Homo sapiens: one gene and its partner. The protein of the gene in region 1 purifies or fractionates together with the protein of each later gene. This does not show direct contact. Each region holds a gene or a part of one and is shown on either strand. Other genes may lie near its edges.

Evidence for each region. The genes of interacting proteins can lie anywhere in the genome.
Region 2: the proteins of CELF5 (region 1) and IARS2 purify together in Homo sapiens (affinity purification with mass spectrometry; 2 studies listed by BioGRID and IntAct, with this or other methods). This does not show direct contact.

What each region holds. Positions count from the first base shown.
Region 1 is NC_000019.10:3,276,661-3,280,160, reverse strand, and holds part of CELF5 (CUGBP Elav-like family member 5), read right to left. Parts: intron 2,131-3,500; coding exon 2,051-2,130; intron 1-2,050. UniProt on the Homo sapiens protein: RNA-binding protein implicated in the regulation of pre-mRNA alternative splicing. Mediates exon inclusion and/or exclusion in pre-mRNA that are subject to tissue-specific and developmentally regulated alternative splicing.
Region 2 is NC_000001.11:220,097,132-220,100,631, reverse strand, and holds part of IARS2 (isoleucine--tRNA ligase, mitochondrial precursor), read right to left. Parts: intron 143-3,500; coding exon 1-142.

The DNA of each region.
Region 1 (3,500 bases):
CCATCCCACTCCATGGCTGTCCAGGTGCCACAGGGCTGGGCTGAAATCCACCAACAGGCAGCCCTGGGCAGTCGAAGCAGCGGTGAGCCAGGGAGTGTCTGTCTGTGCAGTCAGGATGCTGCAACAGGTCCTGATATCGGTAACAAGAGAAGCCTGGTGGCCGGGCACAGTGGCTCATGCCTGTAATCCCAGCACTTTGGGAGGCCAAGGTGGGCAGATCACCTGAGGTCAGGAGTTCGAGATCAGCCTGACCAACATGGTGAAACCCCGTCTCTACTACAAATACAAAATTTAGCCAGGTGTGGTGGCGCGTGCCTGTAATCCCAGCTACTTGGGAGTCTGAGGCAGAAGAATCGCTTGAACTCGAGAGGTGGAGATTGCAGTGAGCTGAGATTGCCCCATTGCACTCCAACCTGGGCGACAGAGCGAGACTCTGTCTCAAAAAAATAAAAGAGAGGCCTGAGGCAGGGGCCAGGAGGCCATTCCCACCCCTCACAAACCAGCCCACACCCCGACTCTGGGGCTCAAGAAGGAAAATATCTTCCCCTTCGACCAGCTCCTCCCTGGTGAGCTGGCTCCCACAGGATGCACCCTGTTGCCTCCCTGTCTTCGCTGACATGCCTCCTCCGATAGAGAACTCACTCCTCCAGACGCCTACCAGCCCTGTCCTGGGACATCTCTGAGCTTGGGAACACTTGCCCTTGTGCTGAACTAAGCCCCTCCCCTGGGTTTTAAGAGCTGAGAGAGGTGGCTTGTTCCTCTCAGGTCCCATCTTCCTTGTAGCAGATTCGGAGATGTGGGTGCAGGAACAATGGCTTCTGGGGACTCCTTCCTCGGGGGAAGGGCAGTCCCCAGTGCCTCCTTGGTCCTCCCCAGCCTCTCACTGCTGCAGACTCTGGGACCTGTCCCCAATCCCCACCCCTCCCTCAACCAGTGAGTCAACAGGCCCCCCATCCATTCTCACCCTAATGTCTGTTTTCTGATCAGCCCTCCTCCCTGTCCACCTGGCCCCAGCTCAGGCCTCCTCCTACCTCAGCTGGACCTTGGCCTAGCCTCCTCTTTGGCCTCCCAGCCTCTAGTCTTGCACCCTGCCCATCCTCTACATTAGCCCCAAAGGGATATTTGCAACCGACCTGGCCTGTCTCCTCCCTTGCTCTAAACCGTCTGTGGCTCCCCACTGCCCTAGGAGAAAGTCCAGGCTTCTCAGCCTCGCATTGCGGCCCCATCTTCTATGGCTCCTCTGGGCTACCTGTTGCCACCTCCCAGCCTTTCTTTTTGTCAGGGCCTCTCCTGGCCTCAGCAAATCCAACCCAGGTGTCATCCCCTTAGGATACCCTTACATGTACACACATACACACTCACCCACTCACAACCTATACTCACACAGACCTGCATATACTCACAAACGTGTACACAATCACCCACAATACTGACACACTCACAGTCATGCACACACACAAACACACACACACACACACACAAACCTGCCCACAAATGCACCTGCAGATGCACACACATGTGCTTCCTCCCCCGTGGCCCAGGCATACTCACACACACGCTCACACACATAGAAACACACATGTACACTCTCATACACGCACACGCACTAGTATCTCTACACTAGCACACAATGGCACACTTATCCATACATATTTACGCACACCCCTCGTGCACACAGCACTCACATAACACTCGCCTACTAGTAATGACACACTCAAACACGCACTCACACACACACATGCATGCAGTCTCGGGCACACTCACACCCAGACATGCACACTCACCCACACGCACACACTTGTAATACATCCATGCACACACATACACTTCGCTTGCCTACTCACCTCCACATCTGCACACACTCACACGTGTATACCCACTCCAGGGACCACAGCCAGGGACTGCGCCTCTTTCTCCACCTGTGCCCCCTCTGAAGGACAGCCAGGGGCTACCGGATGACAGCGACGGTAGGAATATGGCCTGTTTCATCCCTGTCCCCCTCACCCCTTTCCCACCCCCACCCCCACGGCCAAGGGCAGCTCCAACTCACCGGCATGGTCTGGCTCCCATGCAAGGCGTGGATGGCCGCCTGCGCCTCCGTGTGGGAGGAGAACTTCACGAAAGCACAGCCTGCTCCAAGAGAAGAAGAAGAGGTAGAGGGTGATGGGGTCACAGGACTGGCTGAGCGGGGGCCACAGGAGAGGGGACACAGAGACCTACATGGCCAGTGTCAGACACATGCAGCCAGAGAGAACTGATAACAGAAAGACAGCCAGCCGTTTGCTCAGACGGACAGCTGGACAATCAGCCAGATCAAGGGTCAGAATGGAGGAGAATCACACAGACAGACAGCCACAGTTAGACAAAGACCTGGTCACCCACACAGCCAGCCAGGCTAATGCAGACAGACAGCCACACACACAGAGACCACCAGACACAGGTGAATGGAAACACAGTCCCACCGACAAAGTCCATAGAACATACAGAGGCCACTGCACCTGGCTCCAGACTGGTAGAGTACTATGGAAGGGCCAGCCATATTGTGGAGGGAGGGGGTGGAATGTTCTGGAATTACATAGTGGTGATGGTTGCACGGTTTTATGAATAGAAAAAAAAAGCACTTCATTGTACATTTTTAAAGGGTGAATTTGGTAGGATGTGGAAGACATCTCAATTTTTTTCTTTTTTTGAGTCAGAGTCTTGCTCCGTCACCCAGGCTAGAGTGCAGTGGCGTGATCTCGGCTCACTGCAACATCTGCCTCCCGGGTTCAAGCAATGCTCTTCCTCAACCTCCCGAGTAGTTGGGATTACAGGCGCCTGCCACCACGCCCAGCTAATTTTTGTATTTTTTGTAGAGACGGGTTTCACCATCTTGGCCAGGCTGGTCTTGAACTCCTGATCTCGTGATCCACCTGCCTCAGCCTCCCAAAGTGCTGGGATTACAGGCGTGAGCCACCACGCCCAGCCCTCAATTTTAAAAAGGAAGAACCAGGTAATGGTCTGAAACCGTCAGACACATTCAGTTCTAGTAAGGTAAGAAAGACCAGAGTGGAGTCGGTCCCACATGATGAGCTCTGTGGACAGAGACCGCCAGACACCGTCATTTGGACTCTCAGGCAGGAAGATAGACAGACAGACACAACCAGAGACCACCAGTCAGTCATATGGACAAATCACATAGACAGAACCAGGAGGAAACAGTTTTACGAATAGTCAGGTGGAGGAATCTGAGACCACAGGGCACAGGTAACTCTGTCCGTGGAGAAGCCCCGCCCCTCCCCAGACCCCGCCCCATCACAAGCCACGCCCCTGCATCCCTACTCACAGGCAGCACCTGGAGAAGCCCCCCCGCCTCCCACCAGACACCGCCTCATCCCAAGGTACTGCCCCTGCATCCCCATCCATAAGCAGCCCCTGGAGAAGCCTTGCCCTTCCCCAAGGCCACGCCTCTGCATCTCCGCCCACCCCACCGCAGCCCCGCCCCTCTTCAGGGCCCGTCC
Region 2 (3,500 bases), on another chromosome or scaffold:
TAGCTGAAAGATTCTGAGCTTCTCTACCAAGTTCTGATAATACTTTTATTTCAATGGGCAACCCATGACAATCCCAGCCGGGCACAAAATGTATTTTGGAGCCATTCATCATATGGAATCGATTGGCTATGTCTTTCAAAATCTGCAAAGATAAAATGATAATTATCATTCATACATAAAATATTTGGCCATGTATTTCAAAATCTGCAAAGATAAAATGATAATTAGCATTCATACATAAAATATTTGGCCTACAATTTATGTTCTTTTTTTTAAACTTAATACCATTTTTAAAACTGCAATTTGAAAGGAAACGTATAAATTAACTCATAAAAAAACTATTGACACAAATAGTCTAATATTATTTATATTGAGCTAAGAAATATCATCAAACCATTGCAGAACTTACAGTGTACTCAGAGAATGGAATATTGTGGTTAACTCTGTCATTGACAAACCCTTACTAAAACAGTAGACCTCTTCATTAGGTATAGTTCTAGAACCAATTTACCTTTTTAAATTCATTTTAGATACCAGAGGGCAGCAGAGCCTTTTAAAAAATATATTACTATAGTTGAATGGAGGAATCAAAGGCAAAGGATAGATTTGGCTCCAAGCTCAATTTCCTTCTTCCCAAGAGGAAACAGTGCTCTGACCACTAGCCCAGTAGTCCAGAAAACAATTTCCTCCTTTCCATGCCTATCAAAAGTAGAAAAGATATTATTATATTCTCCTCCCATCCCTTCCCCCCTTTAAAAACTCTAATTTCAAACTGTTTACTAATGAACAGGAAGGAGCCTTGTGATCTGAGTGGTTGTCACATTAAAAAAAATTCATCTAGCTATACATACTTAAGATTGGTTCACTTTACTCTGGGTATATTATTTAAATCAATCATCATATAAATAACCTCCTTTCTACTTAACTCTTTGGAAATTGTTTACTTATTTTTTTGTCTCTTCCCTGTAAAACATAAACTCCATGAAATCAGAGAGCCCATCTGTCCTCTTCACCTATGAATTCCAGCCTTTCGAATGGTTTCTGGCACTAGTCTATAAATATTTATCAAATACATGAATACATGGATGCATATATGCTCTAAACAATGGTATCTTATATAGTAGCCACTGGCCACATGTGATTTTTGGTGCTAGTCCGAATTCAGATGTAATGTAAATTATAAAATATATACCTGATTTCAAACATGTTTTACGAAAATGTGATATATCTCAAAAATGTTTTACATCGACTGTATGTTGAAATGATACTTTAGATATGTTGAGTTAAATGTAATATTAAAATTAATTTCACTTGTTTCTTTTCATTATTTTCTGGGGCCACTAGAAAAATTTTAACTTACCTATGTGGCACAAATTTATAGCTTGCATTATATTTATTTCTTTTTTTTTTTTTTTTTTTTGAGACGGAGTCTCGCTCTGTCGCCCAAGCTGGAGAACAGTGGTACAATCTCGGCTCACTGCAACCTCTGCCTCCCAGGTTCAAGTGATTCTCCTGCCTCAGCCTCCTAAGTAGCTGGATTACAGGCACATGCCACCATGCCCAGCTAATTTTTTTGTATTTTCAGTAGAGAGGGGGTTTTACCATGTTGGTCAGGCTGGTCTCGAACTCCTGACCTGATGATCTGCCCGCCTCAGCCTCCCAAAGTGCTGGGATTACAGGCCAGACCCACCACGCCCAGCCGCTTGCATTGTATTTCTACTGAATAGTGTTGCTTTCAGTCATATGAACAGGATGAAATCAATCACTGGAACTAATAATTAACAGTGTACCTAATAAGGATTCTTAAATGTAATAATAAAATATAATATATGAAGCCTCTAGTGAAAAGAATAGTAGCAATATCATAGGAATATTTTACTAACTCCTCAGTATCAAACACCACCCTCCTTCTCCCCAAAAAAAGTTCCTCCATACTTTTAAGAGTCATTTATCTCTGTTCCTTTCATTTTTCTAATATTCATGCATTGCTTTGTTTGAGGGATAAATATCTGAATGCCTACTGTATGTCAAGAATTTTTCTAGGAACCTAGAATATAGTAGTAAACAAAAACGACAAGGTCTTTTTTCTCATGGAGGAACACAGAATATATACCAACATATCACACACTATGGAGAAAAAAGCAAATTATAGGGTTAGAAAATGACATTTAGGGGCTGGGGGTGGTACCATTTTAGAGGGAAGTCAAGAGAGCCTGGTAAGATGACATTTGAACAGAATCTGAAAGAAATGAGGAGGTGATCCATGTGAATATTCTGGTGATGCATTCTAGGAAGAGGAGAAAGCAAGCAAGACTATAATTAGCATGTGTGAGGAAGAGCAAGAATTGGTCCTTCCCTAGTTCCAAAGTGCCCATGCTCTTTGCTAAGGGCTTCAAGAAGGTTTCTCTTCATGTGAGAGATAGTTTTGTAAGATGCCACTGTTTTGGCCGGGTGCAGTGGCTCACGCCTGTAATCCCAGCACTTTGGGAGGCCGAGGCGGGTGGATCATGAGGTCAGGAGATGGAGACCATCCTGGCTAACATGGTGAAACCACGTCTCTACTAAAAAATAATACTAATAATACAAAAAATTAGCTGGGCATGGTGGCAGGCACCTGTGGTCCCAGCTACTCGGGAGACTGAGGCAGGAGAATGGCGTGAACCCGGGAGACGGAGCTTGCAGTGAGCCGAGACTGCGCCACTGCACTCCAGCCTGGGTGACAGCGTGAGACTCTGTCTCAAAGAACAACAACAACAAAAGATGCCACTGTTTTTTATGGAATTATTCCTTTGTCCTCAATCCACATGGAGCTGGCTCCCTCTGCTGCAGCTCCAAGAGTGAACACGTGATCCACTGTAGCCATTAACATATTCTATCCCCAAGTCTGCAATGACTGATTCAGAAATAGATGTGCGACCCAAATCAGGCCAATGAGATTCAATTCCAGGACTTTTATAAGAATTATTGGGGGCCAGACGTGGTGGCTCACGCCTGTAATCCCAGCACTTTGGGAGGCAGAGGCGGGCAGATCACGAGGTCAGGAGATCGAGACCATCCTGGCTAACACAGTGAAACCCCCTCTCTACTAAAAATACAAAAAATTAGCCGGGCGTGGTGGCAGGCGCCTGTAGTCCCATCTACTTGGGAGGCTGAGGCAGGAGAATCGCTTGAACCCGGGAAGCGGAGATTGCAGTGAGCCAAGATTGCACCACTGCACTCCAGTCCGGGCGACAGTACAAGACTCTGTCTCAAAAAAAAAAAAAAAAGAAAAAAGAACTGTTGGGAAAGAGAAGGTGGAATTATGTAAGCCTGAAACTACTGGGAAATGTGCTGGGGGTCTGGGGTGGGGCAGTCACTAAAGTAGCAAAGAGTGAGAGACAGAAACCAATTCTTAATTTTATGTGAATTCCTGATCCAGCTATGCAGGTGGCTAAAACTATCTGGACTCTACAGTAAAAAAGCCAGTAAATTCTCTCTCTTTGCTTAATCCAGTTAATGTT